Regions from separate parts of the Homo sapiens genome. Here region 1 is linked to region 2. Evidence: fine-mapped expression QTL. A gene starts in region 2. The other region holds a variant in brackets. All regions are shown on one strand. Distances are between the middles of the regions. Region 1 overlaps AK4 (adenylate kinase 4). Region 2 holds the start of AK4 (adenylate kinase 4).

Region 1 (12,088 bases), 32 kb before region 2:
CATGTCCTCTAACCTGATACAAGATCAAACTTGTCCCACATATCTCAATCTCTACCATGAAAACCCAGAAAGATCCTCAGACAAAGCAAAATGACCTTAATATATCCGCATCTGAATGAAGACCTCATGACAACAGCAAACTACAATAAAACACCCTGTCAGAAGACTGAGGCCCATTTCGGAAAACTGGACCTTCATCTACCCTTGTCAGTTTGCTTGGAAGAGAAAGCAGCATCATTAAATGCTGATGATAGCATGCATGGACTTACCTGCTCTAATTTCTGAAGCAGTATTCCAAAGAAAGGCTGTGGACACACATACATGGTCCCACACAGCTTCTGAATCCTGAGTGTGTTCACACACACACATCACACACACAAATAATTCAGAAAACACTAGGAAGGTTTCAAATAAATGTAATAAATATAGGGTGCCCCAAAGAGGCCACTATCTTTGCCTTTTTCTTAAGTTTCACAACAAACCAACAAATAAATCCATCATGTGTTTATAAGATTAAACAAAACACCAATGATTAAGGCGACATATAAAAAATCTTTCTTCAGAAAAGGAAAGATGAAGTGTCAGATTCCAAACATTATATATAACAAAATTATGTGTTCATATAGAGAGAAAGATAGATGGATGGTATCATCCACAATGTTAAGTATATTAGAAGAAAATCAATGTTCTACATATCTTACAACAATATAAATTTTGTGGCAATTCATCTTAACAACCTATTCCATTCAATCACTACTAAATTCAAATAGATATAATCTTGGTAACCTTGAGAAATATATATTTTCAATTTCTAACTAGATCAGATAATATACAAATTTTCAGGATTTAAGACTATTAAACTGTGCATTAAGATAATACCGCATTTAAAATTATACGATAACACAAAACTTAAGACTATCTATTAAGTTGGTCATCTCTCCAAAATTCATGCTTCCAGGATATGGAAAGATATTTTGTTAGCCTCAATTCCTACACATTAAAGCTGTCCACATTTATATCAACAGACTGAAATAGATCACTGTATTCAGGGCAGCACATATGCCAAAACACTGTCAACTGCTGAAGGAGTAGGATGTTGGACTCACATTCTGCATCATCTTAAGGCTGGTTAAAAAGAAAAGACCTGTAAGTAGAAGAGCCAATAAGCAGATGACATTTCTTTAGAAAAACCATGAGAACACAGACACATACATACACACACACACACACACACACACACACACACACACACACACACGGATATTTATATAGCACAAAATCCATTCTACAGCAACCCTAAATATGCAGGACAGTCAGCATAAACACTGCAGGGACTGAATGACTCTCAAAAAGAAAGAAATATTGGCCGGGAACAGTGGCTCACGCCTGTAATCCCAGCGCTTTGGGAGGCCAAGGTTGGGTGGGTTGCCCAAGCTCAGGAGTTCAAGACCAGACTGGCCAACATGGCAAAACCCCCAAAAATACAAAAAATTAGCTGGGCGTGATGGTGTGCACCTGCAGTCCCAGCTACCCTGGAGGCTGAGGCATGAGAATCACTTGAACCCAGGAGGCAGAGGTTGCAATGAGCCAAGATAACGCCACTTCACTCCAGCTTGGGCGACAGAGCAAGACTCTGACTCAAAACAAAATAAAACAAAGGAAAGAAAAAATAAATAAATATGTAAAGATCCAAAATACAAAAGGCTGATTTTGGTCCTGAAATGGGAAGAAAAAAAAAGGTACACTGTTCCCTCTGACAATATAGGGTATGGTTAGTTTTGTGGTTTGAATACTCTTTAAATCCACAAAATACTCATTCAGCTAATATTTATTAAGCATCTATGTGCCAGGCCCTATATCAATCTAGCATGAGGCCTGTTCCAGAGCTCAGAGTCTTAAACACTGGGATTGGGTACTAATCCACCAAAAGCTTTCAATAGCAAAAGTTCATGGAATTTTACTCTGTGTCAGGCAGAAAATTAAACAGTCAGTAGTTATCACAATTAAGATATAGAGGCTCTTACACTGCCAATAAAGTTCTACATAAATACACTATGAAAGAGGAATAGGCTATAGGTCACAAGCTAAATGAAAGCGTTTAGTCAAACAATGAATCTGCCAGCCAATCCACCTTTCACTATTGAAGAGATTATCTCTAAAATACTAGTCCAGGGTTACAGAAAGCCAACCAGGTTACCTTAGTTTCTTGACGCTGGAGACAAAAAGATTTGTTTTAATAAAAGTGGTGATTAACACCTCAAAATAATTGACTTTAGTTAGGTAAAATCCATCAACTGGAATGAAAGTCTCTCAGGATCAAATCTCAACTACTAATACTTTAAGCAAAGGCAAATGAGGTCTTTTTTTTTTTATCTGAATGTCTTATTTCTGTCTGTCATATACTTTTTTCAATAAGTAACGCAGGTGGGGCCAGCATAAGGACAATGAAAAGTGTGTTTTGTGACACAGGAAAGGAAAAGTACATGCCAGAAGTCAGCTGTGCAGTAACCTATGAGAGAGCTACTCCTGTTTCACCCCAGATCATCACCTCGATTCCAAAGCCACTCCAATCACTCAGAACCACAGCTGAAAATTCTCTGAACACACCACTTCTCCAACCAAAATTTTCTGCAAGTCTATGTACCAGGTACCACACAAGGCACTAAAGATACAAACATCGTACCCTTGAACTGAGTGTTGTAGCTCACACCAGTAATCCCAACACTTTGAGAGGTCAAGATGGGATGATCCCTTGAGGCCAGGAGTTTGAGACCAACTGGGGCAACATATTAATAACAAGACCCCATCTCTATAAAAAATGTAAAATTAGTCAGGCGTGGTGGCACACACCTGTAGTCCCAGCGACTCTGGAGATTGAAGTGGGAGGATCACTTGAGCCCAGGAGTTCCAGGGTGCAGCAAGCTATGACTGCGCCACTGCACTCCAGCCTGGGCAACAGAGAGAGGCACTCCTGCCTCTAAAAAATAAAAAATTTACTGAGCAACTACTCTGTGCCAGGCTGTGGCACATTTCCCTAAGTGTCAGAGAAACCACAAAGGGAGGGGGCATCAGAAGTCATCTGTGATCTTCTTCAGATTGCTTGGCCAGGTGACATCAAACAGATGACAACTTGGCCTATCAAAACAACGTCAAGTTATAAGAATGGCTTCCTATCATTTACTGGCACAACCCAAAAATAAAAATAATAAAAGCTTAATTCTGGCCGGGCACTGTGACTCACACTTGTAATCCCAGCACTTTGGGAGGCCAAGACAGGCAGATCACTTGAGGTCAGGAGTTTGAGACCAGCCTGGCCAACAATGGCGAATCCCCGTCTCTGCTAAAAATACCAAAATTAGCCAGGCATGGTGGCACATGCCTGTAGTCCCAGCTACTTGGGAGGCTGAGGCCTTGAACCTGGGAGGCGGAGGTAGCAGTGAGCTGAGATAGCGCCATTGCATTCCAGTCTGGGCAACAGAGCGAGACTCTGTCTCAAAAAAAAAAAAAAGGCTTAATTCTACAGCTTAGGAGCCTGCTGGTTTATGAAAAAGTCTAACACAGACACAATTATACAATATAATGTTGATGGCTACATGCATATACAAAAGTATATGGTAAAGCAAGAGAATCATTACAAGATGCAGGATAGTGCTGGAGGAGAGAGATGGAAAAAGGAGCTATGGGGTACTGATAACACTCTGTTTCTTAGGCTGGGTGGGAGATACAAAATTGTTATTGTTTCTAGCACCCACACACCCACACATCTGTATCCTCTTTTTGTTGTGACTGTCTATAAAGTGAAGGCAAACTAGATATACAAGACAGAGCTGAACGAATGTTCACAAAACAGCAAATTCCCAAGATGCCTGGCTAAGTCACCAGAAAGAGATAATTACTCAATGTTCTTTTCATTGTTCTACAGAAAATGCTGAGAGTAAGATTCCTGTAAATGAGCTCAATTCCCTTGTAAGACCACTCTACCCTGAAGTATCAGACTGCATGTATGGGACAGAACTAGGAGAAGCCTTGCTCACCCTGGTATCATCCCTTCGCCAAAACATCACTAATAATGGCAGTGCACACGTGTGTGCGCACCTGCGCACACACATACACGCATCTCAAGGGGCCTGGTCAAAGATGAACTGTAGAGCTTTATAATTCTTCAAGCTGCAAGTTCTTTATCTCCCCACTTGTAAGAATATTTTGGCACTGAAGTAGAAATAACTACTTTGGGGGAAAAAATACAGTGAAGAAAGACTTCATTCTATAAGTTATCCCTAATATCACTCTGCTGAATCTCTTCCAGTAAGAAAATAAGCTTTAAAAAATAAAAAACCTTGGTTAAAAAAATAGATGTCAAAGTCCTTTAGAGGCAGAAATCATGGAAGAAACTCTTAAATTTAAGGCATTTTGGCACTTAAGTGACTCATTTCAGACATCCAGTATCCACCTTTCAATTGGTATTTGTTCAAAGCTTGACTTTCTTTTCCTTCATACCAAAAATACAGTTTTAAATCACTCTCTGACACTTGCTATGGGTAACTATGAAGAAAACACCTCAGCCTCCTAAGTAGCTGGGAACACAGGTGCATGCCACCATGCCCAGCTAATTGTTGCATTTTTAGTAGACACGGGGTTTTACCATGTTGCCCAGGCTGGTCTCGAACTTCTGACCTCAAGTGATCCTCCTTCCTCAGCCTCCCAAAGTGGTGGGATTACAGACATGAGCCCCAGCACCTGGCCCAAAGAAAATTCTGAATCCAGTATAATTGGTCAAGTACATACGCTTTAGAGCCAGACTGCCTGAGTTCAAATCCTGGCACCACTTAAAGGCTATAAGACTTTTGTCACGTATGTCTTTGCCTCAGTCAAGTTTGTGCCTCCGTTTCCTCACCAATAAAATGGGAATAATATCACTTAGGGTTGTTTTGAAAGTTGCATGTGATTAACATATGTATAAAGGTCTTGGAATGATGCTGCTTTGCAAATTTCATTCAAGAACATGGAGATACTAAGTATTTGTGTCTATGTGCCAAGGGTTGTTCTAGACCATTTCTTTTTTCTTTTTGTTTTGGAGACAGGGTCTCACTTTGTCACCGAGGCTGAAGTGCAGTGGTGTGATCACAGCTCACTGCACACTTGACCTCCCAGACTCAAGCGATTCTCCCGCCTCAGCCTCCAGAGTAGCTGAGACTACAGGCACATGCCACCATGCCTGGCTAATTTTTCTTTGTAGAGATGGGGGTCTCATCATGTTACCCACGTTGGTCTCAAACTCTTGAGTTCAAGGGATCCTCCTGCCCGGGCCTCCCAAAGTGCCGGGATTACAGGCATGAGCCACCACACCTGGCCGATTCTAGAAAGTTTATATACATGAACTCATCAAATGCTCACAAATATCTATGAAGTCTAGGGTATAATATTCCCTATTTCTTAGATAAGGAAATTGAAACACAGAGAGATTAAGTAACTTGCCCAAAGTAACTGAGTTAATAAGTCATACAGCCCAGACTCAACTTCAAGCAAGTTGGCCCCAGTCCATTTTCTTAACCACTACACACTGCCTCTCAATGTTTGTGAGCATTTTCTTGAACAGAAACAACTTTGCATGTTAGCATACATGCTGCTGAAATATGACACTAGCACCTGTATAAAAGGGACAGGTTCTTACTAAAGAACCGAGCTGCTGACTGTAAGGAAATACCTGGTCCTGCTCTGTATAACCAGTGCTTCCTTTAGGTACTGTATCTAACTAACTAAAAACTCAGTTTCTATGTGGCTGTTTCCTACCAAATTATAAGCATCCTTTAATTCCATATCTCCTCACCAGTCAGCTTCCTTTCCTCTCTCCCAGACCCTCTCCCTCCCCCAATCCATCCTAGACACAACTCCAAGATAGACCTTCCAAAAACACAAGGTGGCACAAGTCGCTCCCTTGCTGACACCACAGTGTGTTCCTTGGCTTGTAGGATGGCATGGATGAATACTCCTTAGGATAGCATTCAAGGTCTCTCTGATCTAGCTGGAAACTACTTCTCAACCTCACCTCCCACCCTCATTTCCTTATCATTCATCCTTTGACCCCTTGTCTGTGCCAGGCACAGAGTCAAGTGCGACTGTGGTTCCTACCCTCCCGCAATCTACAGACTCGTGGAGGAAAGACGGAACAGAAGACAGAGGTGGACACCCCAATCTGACCTCAGGTCCAAAAGAAGCTTCCCACACTGGAGTTGGGCTTCTGAAGGGCTAGCAAATGTTGGCTGGAAGAAACACCCTTCAGTTTGTGTGTTCCTCTAAGAAGCTTTCCCTGATCATTTTTCTCCTATCTTACCTTGAGAGTTAATCCCCCCTTCTGTAATCTACCAGCACATGGGCTAAAGTTAGTTCATTCGGTGTCTGTACTAC[A/G]GAGGTGTTCCCTTTGGGAAGAGGCAGCCCTGTGGGCCCCCAGCTGAGTAAACACATTGTGGCTATGCACACATTTCAAGATGCTCATTTCTCCAGGCAGACTCAGCCGTGTGCCGGAGAACACAGCTCGGTGGGCAGAACCAGGGTTGGACTACAGGCCTCACACACCCCTTAGCCAGGTTCCCCTCAACAGGCCACGATTTGTACAATCATATGCAGTGGCCTTGTACCTTTACCTGACATTTCACTCCTCCAGTGGAACAGACATTGTTTACAAATCCTCCAGAGCAGATTATAATCCCCTTGAGGCCAGAGGCTATCTTAACAGTCAAGCAAGAGCCACTCTACTTGAGATGAAGAATTATCATACCTTTGAACTCTTCCACCTTCCCATCCACAGGACCCTACAAATTATTAGATGAACTTCTCATTACACCCTTTACCATACCTTACTTTTTGTATCGTTCACCCCTGACAGCCACGGTCATGACTTTCAGGCAATTAAGACTCAGAAAACCCTTCTCAACAAATGAAACATCATGTGCAGCAATGTTTTTTTTTTTTAAATGCTATCTTATAGTCTGATTCTTTGGCAAGCCTTGAATAACTGAGGAAAATTACTGAATTAAGCAAAGCATTCTCTTACCTGATTAGACTACATAAGTGGACATTTGGTGCATGTTGCCCTTGGTTCTCACAACCGTTGCTTCAGTCTACACAAATTGGTGCAGAAAGATCATTACCACAGGTTGTGTTTGGATCCCAAGCCTGATCTCTTAACAAGGAAGGGTCTGTTCCCAACAAGTGGATGCTTGCTCCTCCTGAAGCTATCTGACATTCTTAAACACCCACAAAATGCATGAGTCAACTCTGAAAGATTTCTGAGATTAGGATTCCAAAGTATTCTCTGACAGAAGCAGCAGGAAGTTTAGCATTAAGGAAACAATTTACCGTTTTTAACATATAGGTACGCGGAAGTCACCTCAAGGAAGGTTGTACAAGGCTTCACCAACAAAACTCAACTGCTTCTCTTTGTGCCATCTCCTCTGGGTGTCTGTGTGACACAGATAAATTTTACCCTAAAAGTGTCCTAATAAATCCCAAGCCAGCAGGGATTTGTAAGCTATTCCTAAAGAAGACAACAAAGACAGGTTTATAACTTATTTAATATAATTTTTAAAACTTTGAAACTGTAAAGACTATAATCCTACTCATTTTTGTTCCTTTGGATATTAGACTAATATGCTCGTGGCATATTAGTCACTGGTCTCTGAGGGAAAAAGAGACCTCATATGGAATACACCCGTCTTCAATACCTTTCCTTTGTCATTTAGTCTGCAATATTTAGCTCATGATAGCGGCAATTATTGTTGGTCTTCAACCAAAGGAAGTTGTAGCCAACATTACTCAAATCTGTGATCTGCACAATCGATTATCACCTAAGTCAAAAGCAGATTAATAGTAAAATGAAAAATTATTTAACCTAGATTTGAGCTCGAAAGTACAAATATGCATCTCTTAATCACTAATTGTGAGATTAAAAATGAAAGAATTTGTAATGTGATTTATTTCCTGACATCTGCATTTTATCAAGGGACAATACCTTTTTAAAAACACTGAAATACTGGAATGGCTTCATACTGAGGCAATGGCAAATATGACACCAGGAACTACTACTGCCAGGCTGGGAATCAGGAGTCCCAGCTCTTTGTTCTGCTTTCAGCTCACTGCCCACAGGACTCTCAACACAGCAATGTATTTCACTTATCGTGGCCTCAAGTTTCCTCATCTGCAAGAGAGAGGTAGACCGTTCGACCTCTGCTATCTCTGTGGTGGCACTTCAACTCCCTGCATTTGGAGGCTTGTGTGAAGGGTAGAGGACTAGCCTCCCCACACCAGCTTTCCTTAAACCACAGAGGTTCCATCTCTGTGGTGAGGAGGGGACTTTACAGACTAAGGAGAGTCTCCCGGCATTCACGGGCAGCGAAATCAACTGATCATTATGCCCGTTCTAAACGTGAGAGGTGGAGTCGGGATGGGAACTCAGGCCTGAATCATCATTTAGTGTTCTTTCTACCATACTTTCCCTAGAACGCTTCCTGAGAATAAGGGCCAATGCTTCATGAGGCCTCTTCACTCTTTTCTCTCTAGCCAGACTGGATATTTATATTCACTTAGTCTAATTTTGTACCCAGGGTCCAGAAATGTGTTGGCAGTGGGTATGCTTCTATAATAGCCAAGATAAAAAGATGCATGGACAACAGCCATGACTTTGGGTAGGGGAGGGGCTGGCATTACTGAAAAAGAAGGTGATCCAATCTCTAAGCACAAAGGATATCCAGACAATTCTTCCTCCTTAGGCTTTCTCATTCCGCCAGCAGATCAATTATTATTTCACCCTTCATATTTATTCAAAGAATAAAACAGTACAGTAACCTTCTTTTAAAATTAAATAAGTAGTGAAAGTAAAAGATACTGGAGCTTCATAAGCCAAAAAATTTTGGACGTCCTATGTCAAGTGTATTTTCTTGGCCCGGGATAGGAACACATGCATTCATAAACACACCATGAACATCTGGTGTAATACCACACGCGGCTTTATATAAGCAGCGGAGGAGAAAAGCAGATTGGGATGAATGCAACAGAAGTTGGGCAAGGGAGCAAATAGGAAAACGGCAAGTAATCTGAAAGATTTGCCAAAATCACAGAAGAGTTTTAAACCCAGAATGTTTAACCGTCTCCTCAAGCTCATGTTCTGGAAATCTGCCTTGGTATCCACCATAGCAGGCACTTTCAGCCCTACAGAGTAGGATTACATTGGAAATCTCAGGGGCCCTCTGGATTTTCTTACTCTGTAAAAACCATAGAACAGCCTCCCTGTAACCTGAGCACAGCCCAAGTACTAGACGCATTCAGAGGATAAGGAGGAATGTCACTTTTAAAGCAACACAAATAGTAATTCCTTGCCATTGCACAAGGCCCAGAGTGTGAATCTATCCGGCTGTGCCATGCACCTTGTTGGCTGCCTCTCTGAACAGGATCTTGGCTGCAGCTCAGCAGAAGCAAGGCTGCTATTCTCCAGTGCCATCTGCTCACACAGGATGGATTGCTACTGCTGCCCATGAGAGTCTTCCCTCTCTCTCTCTGTAGTAACTCTGGCAATGCCCTGTTGGAGAACTACAGCAAGGGCTCCAAAAATGTGTGCTGCTCAGCAACCTCCGGAAGGGAAACGGGAACAGGGAGAGCTGATGCGGACACTCTTCTGACAGGACCTCCTCAGCAATCAGCAAGGACAAGCAGTCCACTGAGCGGGCCAACACACAATCATCCTTCAACAGCCAGCAAGAACAACGATACCAGTGGCAACAGTAATGAAACACTTAGGAAGTACTGGACCAGGGGTTGTCAAATGAAGGTCATGACCACTATTTTGGTTGTTTAAAATAAAAAGTGGCACACAAAAAGAGAAAATATTATACATTCTTAAAATGTGTTTCACTTAATTGCAGGATTAAGCTAATTCCTACCATGGAGCACATTAAAAATAGATATCCATAAAAATTTTAAAAAGAAAAAATAAATAAGCAAATATTGGGTCAAGTCTTTCTATACTCCCTTGTACGTATTATCTCAATTAATTCTTACAACAACCGTATGAAGTAGTACCATTATTATTCTTGGTTTGTGGTTGAAGAAATAGAAAGTGTTTGAGTAACTTGCCTGGCTGGCTTCCCAGTCAATGTGGTTCCAAAGCCTGAACTCTTAACACATGCCCTACAGCAAGTAGCTCCCTAGACCCTGTGTCCAAAGCCTTTGCTCACTTCCTCAAGCAATTTCTCTCACACCGTAATTCTTTGTTCAACCATCTGTCCCTTTCCCCTTTCCCCTTGTGAACTGAGAACACCTCAAGGGCAGGTCTTGTTGAGCTCAGTGACTTAAACAAAGGCTCAGGGAGCAAAGGATCCCAACAGTATTTTTTAAATTAAGTGAGTAAATGAGGTATGTTAAAAGAAAAAAGAAGGCAAATTGTAGCCAAGAAAAAAATAATAATAAGTCCTGACACTCGAGGATCTGTCTTTGCCAAAGGGAAATTCGGTCTCTGAATTTAAGAAAGAAAATTAAGAAAACTCAGTCTCTGAATTAAGAAAACGAGTTCCTTGTATTCTTAGAGAGACTTGGGGGAAAATAAACTTCATCTAAAAATTTAATCAGGTTAAAAAAAAAACAACTAGAGTGTCAAAACATCTGCCTATGCTTTGCTCTGGGCCCTTCATTCAGGAAAAACTAATGAGTTTTTGGATCAATAAAGGTAAGGCTAGGGTTTATTTGGGGGGTTGAGGGTGAAGAGGGAAACTATTCTGGATTAGAAAGCCAAATCCTTCTGGTATTGGAGGATTGAAAGCTGAGGAACAGAAAAAGAGCAGACTCTCCAGAAGGGAAAAGAGCAAGAAATCAGTGAGCTGAACCTAAGCCAGGGGAGGGGCAGGCAGTGGCTGAAGGGGTGTGTGGGGAATGGCTGATAGGTTTTTAGGACACCGGTGTCTAACATGCCATGTCAACTTCCTTGTGCCAGACTCTAATCCCCATCACCCCAAACCTTAATACAACCACCTCAGCTAAGTAGTCTATTTTTTTTTTTTTGAGACAGGGTCTCCCTTTGTCACCCAGACTGGAGTACAGTGGCACAATTATGCCTCACTGCATCCTCAGCTTCCCGGGTTTAGGGGATCCTGCCACCTCAGTCTCCTAAGCAGCTGTGGCTACAGGCGTGCGCTACCACGCCTGGCTAATTATTTTTGTATTTTGTAGAGATGAGGTTCCACCATGCCGCCCAGGCTCGAACTCCTGAGCACAAGCGATCTGCCCACCTTGGCCTCCCACAGTGCTGGGATTACAGGTATGAGTAGTGCTTTGGGAGAAGGAAAGAAGGAGGGTCGGGTCCAACATGGGATGAAGTCATACAGAAAGGGCAGCCTTTCCAAGGAAAGACTGAAACGCAGAAGTGAAAAATTACAGGGAAGTATGCAATCTGAGGAAGAGGTGACCAGAGAAAATACCCAGTATTAGAGATGTGGTGTGGAGTGCCGGGAAGCCACTGAGTAAAGGATGAGGGCCCAAGTCTTTCTAATTCGGTATATAAAGCTGGAGGACAGGGACAGCTGATCTGCTGTATGTTAACTCTGTGGTGCAAGCCAAGTGCCATGGACTGTTACCCAGGGTCACTAATATCCCCCACCATGAGAACACATTTACTCCAACATGGTGCAGCCACTACCATGCCACACACCATAATGATTCAATACTGACGACCAAGACTTGTGGTTCAAAAATCTCTTGCTAGGCCGGGCGCAGTGACTCACGCCTGCAATCCCAGCACTTTGGGAGGCCAAGTCAGGTGGATCACTTGAGGTCAGGCATTCAAGACCAGCCTAGCCAACGTGGTGAAACCCTGTCTCCACTAAAAATGCAGAAAATTAGCCAGGCTTGGTGGCACATGCCTGCAATCCCAGCTACCTGAGAGGTTGAGACAGGAGAATCGCTTGAACTCGGAAAGTGGAGGTTGCAGTGAGCACAGATCATGTCATTGCACTCCAGCCTGGGCAACAGAGCGAGAGTTCGTATCAAAAAAAAAAAAAAAAAAAAAAAAATCTCTTGCTGGCCAAGATGGCCCAGAAGTAGAAAT
Region 2 (12,088 bases):
ATTCAAGTCACAAATAGTGTTCTTCAAATATGTGTGAAAATCCTCAAAGAAACCAAAAAAGCAACAATAAGTGGATATGGAGTGGACCTTTGGACTGGAGAGGTCTCAAAACCAGTCAGACCCTTGCTTGACCTGTGCTACATCCTGAGTCTCACCCAGCTAGGGGGGGAAATGGAATAGAACATACTCTAGAAACCCTGTAATAAGCCAAGACTCTGTATGATCTATAAAAAGGATAACTATTGAAACCTGTTTTAGATACATTGTTGAACTCTGGCTCCCAAGTCTCTCTAATACAATGTTTCTATCTTCCAGTTCTCAGAAGTTTTCCCTCTTACATAAGACACACATTTATACTTAATGAGCACCAAAAAGAACCCTGAGCCCTCTGAACTAGGCCATCTTTTCAAAAAGAGGCTGGGCCCATAGACTAACTTGAAATGCTAGTCCCATCAGCAAAACTCCAGCAAGAGCTGCAGTTAATATTGAGAAGCAGAGGCCAGGTGCGGTGGCTCACGCCTGTAATCCCAGCACTTTGGGAGGCCGAGGCAGGCAGATCATGAGGTCAGGAGTTCAAGACCAGCCTGGCCAAATGGTGAAACCCCATCTCCACCAAAAATACAAAAATAGCCACACGTGGTGGTGTGTGCCTGTAGTCCCAGCTACTCGGGAGGCTGAGGCAGAAGAATCGCTTGAACCTGGGAGGCGGAGGCTGCAGTGAGCCGAGACTGTGCCACTGCACTCCGGCCTGGGTGACAGAGTGAGACTCCGGCTCAAAAAAAAAAAAAAAAAAAAAAAAAAAAAAAAAAAATATATATATATATATATATATATAGAGAGAGAGAGAGAGAGAGAGAGAGAGAGAGAGAGAGAGAGAGATAGCAAGTGCAGAAACAGGTTTGTTCCTTAACATCTTTTATCTCAATTAACTCCAAGATGCTTCCAAATGGAGATGTGCCAGTTTTCCTGCACTTGAGATAGTAGATCCAGTATAATGTGGTTTTAAAAAATACCACTATTTCTCCAACCTTTAAAACAGGATTTGCATATCCTTTAGATATGACCCAATAAAAGAATCTATCATTAAATATCAGAATTTGTTCAGAGTTTGTAGTAGGACTCACTCAATAGAGTGCCAGTCCCTGTGTGTGTGTGTATACTCATACATACATGTGCATACCCATACATACACAGAGAAAAGCTAATATTTCTTACAACAGAGGGTAAGACCCAACTCCTGGCAATCTAAGAGAACTCTCCCTTCTATTTACTCTTGCAGTGTGCTAAAGAAAATCTGAGCCAAAGATATGGGTGTGACTCTTCAAATGAGGTATCTGATAAGCCTCAGCCTGTACCACTCTAGGCAGTGTAGGAAGGGCCAATGGGTGACAGCTACCATGAAGCTAATCTCAGATCCATATTAAGCACAAACTTTTACCATAAATCAGAGCTAATTAAACAAAATGGTCTCTATGCTATAGGTTGCTTGACTTCTGGACTAAGATGTACTGTCTAGAATTTGTGACCCAGGCCTTTAATACAGACTCGGTAAGCTCCTTTTATACATTAGGTACTTTGCCTGATCCCTGTCCTCCAAGTTTCAGAGTGGAAATTGTACAATGGTATAGGCAGAAAGAACAAAAGGCCCAAGAATGGGCCAGGTGCAGTGGCTCACACCTGTAATCCCAACATTTTGGGAGACTGAGCCAAGAGTTTGAGACCAGCCTGGGCACTAAAGCAAAACCCCTATCTATAAATAATAATAAAAGAGGCACAAGATTATCTTAATGCTATTGCCCCCAGCACCTAGAACATTGACGCACAGCAGCCACTCAGCAGATATCTTACTGGGTGTGAGACAGGCATTTTTACACTGCATGATATATGACTGCAACATTAGAATCAATAAGACATGTGCAGAGGAGAGGAGGTCAGGTGCGGTGGCTCACATTTGTAATCCCAGCACTTTGGGAGGCCAAGACGGGTGGATCATCTAAGGTCCCGAGTTCGCGACCAGCCTGACCTCGAACCTTCGTAGAGATGGTGAAACCCTATCTCTACGAAAAATACAAAAATTAGCCGGGCGTGGTGGCAGACGCCTGTAATCCCAGCTACTTGGGAGGCTGAAGCAAGAGAATCGCTTGAACCCGGGAGGCAGAGGTTGCAGCGAGCCGAGATAGCGCCACTGAACTCCGGTGTGGGTGACAGAACGAGACTCGTCTCAAAAAAAAAAAGTTATGTGCAGAGGAAAGAGATGAATTCTGCCAGAGCAGGTGAGGGAAGACTTCCAAGAAGCAATGACATCAGAATGGCCCTTTCCTGAAAGAGCAGCTTTTCACCAGGCTGCAGGAGGAGGAAAGCCATGTAGACAAGAGTGTGCCCAAATCCAGGCTGGAGCAGATGGCCGGAGCTACTTTCCAATTCAAATTCCTACACGGTTCTATTTCCTGGGTTTTTGTTGTGCTTCATCGTCTCCTTCAAACCTTCCATTATAAAGGGTACATACAGAAGGGTGGTTGTGTTTCCCACCAGGAAATCAGCTAAAAGCAAACAGCAGGTAACAGACAGAAAAATAAATACCGTGGAAAGGAATGTTTTATTTACCAGGCAGTAAGCCTATAAGATTCTCAGACCTTCTGAGAGGGAAAAATAATCCGATAACCCGAAAGTTCACTAGAAACAAGCCACTTTCAAAACAAATTGCTGTCCTTTATTTTTCTTCTTTCTTTGATAAAGTTTTTTTTTTAATTGGCTCATGCAAAAAGCTGCTTGATTCCCAACAGAAAAAAGAAAATCTAAACATTTCATAGTCATTTCTCACTCCAGGGAGGATCACTGGGGAGGAAATGAAGGCATTTGAAAGAGAATGAAAACTAAAATTTAGAACACAGGAAAGTTAAAAAAAAAAAAGAGAGAGAGAGAGAAAGAGAGAACAAGGGAAAAGAGCAAATGGAAAATTTTCAAAGCCCCTAAGAAAGTGCAGAAATAAGCTACTTCCCATCACACTCTCTTTAAACATGGAAAGGGCTATGAGTCCAGTCCCAGGATGGACAGTGTGAAGCCCTTCATTCCAGAAGGAAACAAGTCACCAAGTAAGGTACAGAGAATTATGGAATGGGCTCATAGAAGGAAACAAGTCTCCTAGTCAGGTACAGAGAATTATGGAATGGGCTCATCTCTTCTCACTGTCTTCCTTCACTGACTCCATGCCCCTACCATGAAGAAGCCCAACCTAAACACAAAACCATTAGGATGAGAGCCAGCCTTCCCCCTCAGGCCGCTCTCCCCTCAAACCGCAGCATTTCAAGAATAAAATGCATGTGAATGTATTAAAATCAAAATAGGCGCACTTGAGGTAACAATACCCACAACAGAAAACTCAAGTGCAATCTGGTACACATAATTCTTCCTTTTGAGACATGGGGGTGGGGGAAGAGTTTCCTGTAAAAGTCCGCTTTTTCAATCTGCTTAAGAGATAAGGAATACAATTCTGGAGATACTTCTTAATTCCTTGCTTTTAAGCTTTCCTTTTGTTTTCTGGTACTGTCCTCCACCTTCCTTTTCAAGCCAGTCTGTGCTTCTGAAATGCAGATCTCCGGATAATTAGTCCATGATGGGCAATAACCAGCCCGGACATCCTTGAGAAGTACATCGACAGTAAAGGACCCCTGCTGGGAAGAACAACTTTTCATAAAGGAGTTGCTAATTACCAGCATCTCCATCCCAGAAGGGTTAAGAGCCTCGCAGCAGCACAACCGCTACCTCTCGCCTTTTAACGCCAATTCTTTCGGAACTGGTGTGAACGTGGAGTGGGAGGAGAGGGGGAAAGGGACGCACTCAACCCCGTCAGACTAAGAAATCAGGCGATCTATATATCCCCAAGTTCACCACGCCAGCCAAAGGAGGCATCTCATGCCAAGGGAGGCAGCTCAAGAAGCCATTTCCAGGAAAGCTGCATTACAAAATGTAATTTATCAGAACGAGTCTCCTCCGAGTCTCCTGACGGCCAGGCCCGGCGGCTTCGGGAGGGGGGGGAGTTGCTGGGGAGAGTTTACCTTAGAAGGCGACAACGAACAGACAGGCCTTTCAAAGCCACCCAGGGCTCTGCCCCGAGGCCCGAGGCTGCGTGGAGGGGCTGGAGAGGCGCGAGGCTGCGAGCCCCCCGGCGCCACAGGTTCCCCGGCGCGCGGCCCCGCCCGACTGCCACAGGTGGGCGGCGCTCCGCCTCTGGGCTCCCGCGGGAGGGGGCGCGCGGCTCTCTAGGGACTCGGGGGAGGGGGCCAGGGCTAAGGGGTACGGGGACGGCTCTGCCTTAAGGAGGGCAGCGTGAGACGGAAGCTCCGGGTTTTCCCTGCCTAGTTCTCGTTCCCTCGGCCGGGTGGCTCGGGCTATTCCTCGCGACAGGAGGAGCGGTGGAGAGGAGCCGTGGGCACCTCCCACCGGCCGCCCCTGGAGCCTCGGCCTCCTCCCCAGGCGCGGTTAAGCCGCGCGGCCGCCAGCTGCATGCGCCCCGGCACGTACGAGCCTGCACGACCACACGCGGGCGGGGGAAGGGCGCCGTGATCCGGGAGCCCCAGTCCCTCCAGGGCCTCACCCCAGCCCAACGCGGCTCGCCCCCGGCCCTCGTCCCCGCAGCCCCTCACCGGTGCTGGCCTTGATGTTCTCCCGCAAGAAGTGGCCGCTGGAGAGATGCTGGAGACCAAAGTTCTGGGCGATCCTCTGGCACACGGTGCCCTTGCCCGAGCCGGGCGGCCCGAGGATGACCGCGCGCAGGAGTTTGGAAGCCATTGCCTTCGCGAGGAGGGGGGCGGTCAAACGCGCAGCCCCGACCGCGGCCCCGGAGGAAGCCCCGGGAACTTTGTTTCTCGGCCCCCTACCTCTGGCACCCTCCGCTCTCACTGGGACTCGCCGGCCGCCCCTACAGGGGGAAGGAGAGACTTTTAAGACAACCCCTCCCCTCAGCCCAGCGCCGGGACCGAGTAGCAGGCGGACTGAGCGCCACGCTACACCTCCCCGCCCTTCTCCACCTCCTCGCCCTCCTCCACCTCCTCGCCCCCACGCAAAGCTGCTGAAGCGCGCCGTGCCCCGCCCTGCCGACTCGGCCTCCAGGGGTCAGAGGTCGGCCCGGCCAGTCCCACCTTCATCCTTAACTCCAGCTCGCTCCCCACGCCGCGTCCGAGAAGGGGGCCGGGCGGCCAGGCATCCCCAAGCCAGTCTCCGCCGAGCCGGGGAAGCTGGCACAAGCGGGGGTGACTCAAAGCCAGCCCCCGCCGCCCCACGCACCGGGCGGCCTAGGGGCTGAGCCCCTGCCCGGTCCTCGCACGTGGGCAACGTGTGGTCTGCGTCTCGTCCCCTCCCCGGCGGCTGTCACATCCCCCGGAGTCTCAGCTGCCGCCGCTGCCCGCCGCCCGCGCGCGCTCGGAGGGGCCCACCTCCGCCCGGGGTTGGCGGATGCGCTCCCCGGCCATGGGGCGCGCGACGAGCCCGAGCCCCGCGCCTCGCCACCAAAAGCAATCAAATAAACACACACCTTGGCTGGAGGCAGCACTCCGAGAGGCTTCCAGCCCGGATCCTGCAGGGCGGCGCCGCCTCCGCCCGCCCAGTCGCGGAGCCCCGGCCGGCCGCGCGGGACTCGCGCCTTACGTAAGCCCGGGAGACCGGCTCCGCGCGAGCCGCTGGCCGCCGCCCCCTCCCCTCCACTCCACTCCACTCCCACCCAGCCTGCCTGGCCCACGTGCTCCCTGCGACCCAGCGAGGGCTGCGGGGGCGAAGCGAGGTGCAGACCACGCGAGGTAGAGAAACCCCTTTTTTTCTTTCGCGGTCGCCTGGGGACCGCGGTCTACTGCAAGGGAAGGGAAAAATACAACTTGTTGAGCGCCTACTGTGCGCCAAGTTTGCGGCTAGGTGATTTCATTGTGTTTACAGCCGAGGAATGGAGCGTGACCATTCATTCATTGATTCATTCTGCAAATGTTTATTGAGTGCCTACTGTGTGCCAGAAACTATTCTAGGCGCTTAGGATCTAGCCGTGAACAACAGATCGAATCCTGCTCTCAAGAAATTGCGTCCTAGCGGGAGGCTGGAACCCAAGACTGACTGACTCCAAAGTCTAGGCGCCTTAGGGAACAGGGAAGAAGGGGATGTCCCTCACCTGTGTTCAGGACCTTCTTGGTAAATGATTCCAGGACTTCCATGCGCATTATGCTGGTGCTGCACCTATAACTCACCAAGTCCAAATGGAGTCTGTCTTCCCCCACTCCACCCTCCCCTGCATATCCCAATCCACATTCTGTTAGATCTGTGCCCACCTTACACACAGCCTTTAATTTCCCACCCCAACTAGTGGGATAAGTGCCCATAAGACTCCAGTTTCTGTGCCATTCCATTTTCCGTGCAGCTGCCAGGAATACTGATAAAGTGAAAATCAATATTTATTATTTCCCGGCCTCAGATATTGTCTTCCCTTCAGGATAAAGTGAAAAATCTTCAGCAGGGGCGCAGAGATGCCTTCCGTACACCTTTGCATTCTGCAGGCCCCCTCCTCTGCCTTCCTTCCACAGGCCACCTGCCTTCAGGAAATCTGTTGCAGAGTTCCCAGCACCAATACCCAGGACTCAGAGAAGGTGAGGGACACAAGTAGTGGGATGGTGTGGAGAAGAACCCCCTCTCAGCTCTTTGATTGGGGTTGGTGGAGGGCAGGGCCTGGCATAGTTTCCTGACACCCAGCGCCTCTCCCCACTGCTTACTCCACGCACAAAATTGGCCAGACAGCACACCCAGGCCACCAGCCCCAGGCCAGCATTTGTTCCATAGACTGATCTCCCTCTAAAATGTCTCAGTGTGGCCGGGCGCTGTGGCTCACACCCGTAATCCCAGCACTTTGGGAGGCCAAGGCAGACGGATCACTTGAGGCCAGGAGTATGAGACCAGCCTGTCTAACATGGTGAAACTCCGTCTCTACTAAAAATAGAATGATTAGCCAGGTGTGGTGGTGCACGCCTGTAATCCCAACTACTCCAGAGGCTGAGGCAAGAGAATCACTTGAACCTGGGAGGTGGAGGTTGCAGTGAGCTGAGATCACGCCACTGCACTCCAGCCTCGGAAACAGGGCGAGACTCTGTCTCAAATAAATGATAAATAAATAAATAAATAAATAAATCTCAGTGTGCTGTAGACCTGATACTGAGCCCCTTCAAACCTTTTCTGGGAACAAAGAGGAAGAACTTGCGGGTCTGGGGGTGGGGGTATATGTGTATAATATGTAGCAGATACTTCTTTGGAGTGGCTCTCAGAAGTGAGCATGCATCAGAATCACCTGGAAGGCATGTTGAAACGTGTTGCTGAGCTCCCCCTGCATAGTGCCACGCACGTCCATGTGAAGAGACCACCAAACAGGCTTTGTGTGAGCAATAAGGCTGTTTATTTTACCTGGGTGCCGGCGGGCTGAGTCCGAAAAGAGAGTCAGGAAAGGGTGGTGGGATTATCATTAGTTCTTATAGATTTTCGGATAGGCGGTGGAGTTAGGAGCAGTGTTTTGCGGGCAGCGGGTGGATCTCACAAAGTACATTCTCAAGGGTAAGGAGAATTACAAAGTACATTGATCAGTTAGGGTGGGGCAGAAACAAATCACAGTGGTGGAATGTCATCAGTTAAGGCTATTTTCACTTTTGTGGATCTTCAGTTGCTTCAGGCCATCTGGATGTATACGTGCAGGTCACAGGGGATATGATGGCTTAGCTTGGGCTAGAGGCCTGACACACAGAATCTGATTCAGTGGATTGAAGGTGGGCATTTCCATCAAGTTCCCAGGTGATGCTGAGGTTGCTGATCTGGAGACCACACCTTGAAAACCACTGCCATAGTGAACAGAGCATTGAGACACAAGATGTGTGGTGTCCTGATTCCTCTGCCAATGTATGACCTTTGGCCCTTAACCTCTACTTTGTAAAATGAGGAGGTTGGATTTAGTACATCCTGAAGATTCCTTCATATCTATTAAGAATTGACTGTAACTTTCCACAGGAAATATGGCTTTTAGCCCGCACAGACTAGCTATCCTATAGCCCTACCTTACCCTACCACCTAGTTCTTTTGTCTACTTTTGAAATGTCTTTACCAACATTACCTTATAGTGTCATGGAACAGTGCTAGCCACCCACATGATTCTAGGACTTTATGCTTTTAGGAGTATAAATTATTAAACAAAGAGTTGTGACACACATTAGAGAAACCAAGATTGGAACCTCGCATTTCACAAAAGAGCCCTCAATGGACCATCCCAGTGCATGGCCATCTCATGGTCCCTCAGCTCAGCTGCTGCTGACTTGGAAGTGAAGCAGAAGATGAAGAAACAGACTTTGGAGTCCAACACACCTGAGATCAAATTGCAACAGCACCATTCACTAACTGCAAATTTCATGATCTCTGTGAGCCTTAGTTTATCTGTAAAAGGAAAATAATACCTCAGAGTCTTGTGGTGAAGCTTAAATGGAGATCATGTATATAAAGGACTCAGTACAGGGCTGGGCATACAATAAGTATTCAGTCGTAAACATCATCATCACCAGTATTAATCATGGGTCAATTATTTAGCCTCTCTAAACCCAGTTCCTGAATGGTGAGAAATAAATGAGATAATACAACAAAGCACCTAGTCAGTTCCCTGGCACTTTTTTTTTTTTTTTTTTTTTGAGATGGAGTCTTGCTCTGTCGCCCAGGCTGGAATACAGTGGCACGATCTCAGCTCACTGCAAGCTCCGCCTCCTGGGTTCACGCCATTCTCCTGCCTCAGCCTCTTGAGTAGCTGGGACTACAGGCACCTGCCACCACGCCTGGCTAATCTTTTGTATTTTTTTAGTAGAGACGGGGTTTCACCGTGTTAGCCAGGATGGTCTCGATCTCCTGACCTTGTGATCCGCCCGCCTCGGCCTCCCAAAGTGCTGGGATTACAGGTGTGAGCCACCGTGCCCAGCCTAATGATAGCCATTCTTATCATATACATACACTCAGGTAATTAACTTCTTCCTATTTCCTTTGTCTAGGGTTTTTAACCCATTTGTAATACTTATCACAGTCTTTGAGTTATTACACAACTATTTATGTTTTTGTCTCCCCTCTAACACTATAAAGTCTGAGGTTTCTGTACTCAAACATATACCCTTTGTAATAATCTGTTAATGTTGGCAAGTCTCTATCCCTCATAACACACTCAGTACCATGCAGCATTGCCTGCCTGGGACGATAGTACAAAGGGAGCCGGACCTCAAATCAGATTTCCTCATTCTGAGCACAGTGCTCTTGTTCCTCTAAACTTCAATTATTTCCACACTATTTTTACAGTTTTGCCATAACATTGTACCACCTTGGCTGTTATTTGCTTATCATGTTTTTTTAATTTTTTTTATATTGACTGAGTTTGTTTAAATAATTGATCTGAGGCTGAGTGCAGTGGCTCATTCCTGTAATCTCAGCGCTTTGAGAGGCCAAGGCGGATGGAGGTCCGGAGTTTAAAACCAGCTTGGCCAACATGGTGAAACCCCATCTCTATTAAAAATACAAAAATTAGCTGGGCGTTGTGGCGCAAGCCTGTAATCCCAGCTACTCAGGAGGCTGAGGCAGGAGAATCCCTTGAACCCAAGAGGCGGAGGTTGCAGTGAGCCAAGATCGCGCCACTGCACTCTAGCCTGGGTGGCAAAGTGAGACTCTGTCTCAAAAATAAATAAATAAATAAATAAATAAATAAATAAATAAATAAATTTGAAAAAGAAATTTTATATAATAATAACTCACTAACCATAAGTAAAAGGATACACTGAAATAAATACAAGAAAAATCAAATAAGATACCAAATACCAGCTGGAATCTACCACCTGTTGATTTTCTGAGCTTAATCTTTGTCTAAATAAAAAAAAAACAAAAACAAAAAACAAAAAACAAAAAAAACAGAGCCAAGCAGGGTGGGATGAGGGTCGGAGAGTTTGTTTACCAAGTGTTAAAAGGTGTTTAAGACATACAGCATCTACATGAGACTCTGCTTAACTGAAATCACATGGCTGAAAATAAGACAGGGAGTACTTTCTAATATTCAGTTTAATTTTTTTTATATATGGAGTCTTGCTCTGTCACTCAGGCTGGAGTGCAGTGGGGTGATTTTGGCTCACTGCAGCATCTGCCTCCCAGGCTCAGGCAATCCTCCCACCTCAGCCTCTCGAGTACCTGGGACTACAGGCGTGTGCCACCACACCCAGCAATTTTTTTTTATTTTTTATTTTTTGTATTTTTAGTAGAGACGGGGGTCTTGCCATGTTGCCCAGGCTGGCCTGGAACTCCTGAGTGCAAGCTACTCCACCCGCCTGGGACTCCCAAAGGGCTGTGATTAGAGGTGTGAGCCACCATGCTGGGCCTCAGACCACGTACCACTTTGAATAATTTCTAGTACCACATCAAACTATCTCCTCCACTATCGGTAATACATTGCACATAATCTAATGTACCTCGAAGTATACCTTTGAAACTTAATTTAATATGACTCACCAGATTTTTGTAATGCTATGATTAAAAATATCACCCGAACCACAGTTCACAGGCACGACACTGACCTCACCTCTAAATTCAAACCCCCATTGTTCCAGCTACCACATCTCTCCATCATTGTCATGTATCACAATTTCATGTTTATTTCTGTTGTATTTGATGAAGACTGTATGCTCCTTTAACATAGTGGCTTCATCTTTTTTACCATGGTTTCCACGCAGCTTAGTAAAAATGCAGCACATGGTGAATATTAAGCAAACATTGTTAAAAGACGGACTGCTGCATGAATGAGTGGATAGAGTTATGTCTCTCTTTGTCTTCTGTGAAGCATCTCTGGAAAGACAACAGAAAGGCTAGTGGCTTATATGTGCAAAGATTCAGAAAAGAAAATAATGGGAAGGAGTAATAAGATACCTGTCCCAGCATGTGCTGTTCCTTTCTCTCTGTAGGCACTCAATAAATACTCAAAAAGCCAAAAGATTTTGCTGAAAGAAGAATAAATGGTGTATAAAGGACTAACATGGTATTATGTGTGACCTCATACATTCTTACAAGTGAAAGAATCATCTTAGCCCCAATTTTACCAGCCCACATGGTTATTAACCTGTAACATCTTAACAGGGTTTGAAAAGGCAGCAGCACTTATTTTACAGCCCTGCCCTCTCAGATAAAAAGAAAAGAAAAAAGCTCCCAAGCTGTTAACAAAAGAAAACTAGAAGGAAAGAAATCAACATTCTTCTAAGTTTACCTGGTATGGCCCACTATTCTCCATGAGCAACAGACTACAGATCATTCCTAGAATAACAGCATATGATAGAGGCAGGCTCTCAGGAAGATGTGGAACTCCCACCCTTGGTCTTTTCACCTTGAAACACTAGAAAGCAGTTTAACAATCTCTTATGTTCTTCCCTCAAACATAATGATATAATGATGATGTCTTGCTCAAAACTTTGCTCCAATTTGTACGTCTGGTAGTGGGGATGGACAGGACTGTGTCATTCACATTCTTCACTCCACGTTCCCAACCACAATCAATAGGAGAATTCCTTCTAGAAGCTGCCTTGGGATTTGTAGGCATGCCTGGAGATCAGATGTGTTTGGGCGTGTCTTTCCTCTGTGCAAAGTTAACTGCCAGAGGAAGTACAGCTTTCTTCCTGCTCCAGCTGGATGAAGGGGCTGAAACTGAATACTAAGTTTATTCTGTCCAAGCGTAGCTCCTCAAGGCTGGGTAAGGAAAGGGGATCCCACTTAGGAGAGACTTCTAAGTTTGGGCTTCTGTTAAGAGCAGAAGATGATAATTAGTGTGTATTGAGTAATTACTATGTGCCGGGGAATCTCTAAGATATAGGTAGATAAATAGAGATATAATAATTTTAAAGGAAAAAAAATTTTTTTTTGAGATGGAGTCTTACTCTGTTGCCCAGGCTGGAATGCAGTGGCGCGATCTCGACTCACTGCAACCTCTGCCTCCCAGGTTGAAGCAATTCTCCTGTCTCAGTCTCCCAAGTAGCTGGGAATACAGGCGCCTGCCACCACACCTGGCCAATTTTTGTAT

What was found.
Region 1: its variant is fine-mapped to the expression of AK4 in whole blood (INTERVAL, PIP 0.91).

What each region holds. Positions count from the first base shown.
Region 1 is chr1:65,172,821-65,184,908 of GRCh38, reverse strand. The region is part of intron 1 of AK4 (adenylate kinase 4); the gene reads right to left. Among named protein-coding and RNA genes, the nearest start is that of AK4, 31 kb to the right of the region's middle. The variant A/G (reference allele first, on the strand shown) is at 6,406.
Region 2 is chr1:65,141,108-65,153,195 of GRCh38, reverse strand. AK4 (adenylate kinase 4) reads right to left here and starts at 4,993. Exons shown (of 5, transcript NM_013410.4): 1 at 4,644-4,993. The coding sequence starts at 4,788. RefSeq lists enhancers at 1,386-1,435, 3,026-3,744, 3,745-4,463 and silencers at 4,057-4,336, 4,397-4,696, 5,077-5,576, 5,587-5,826.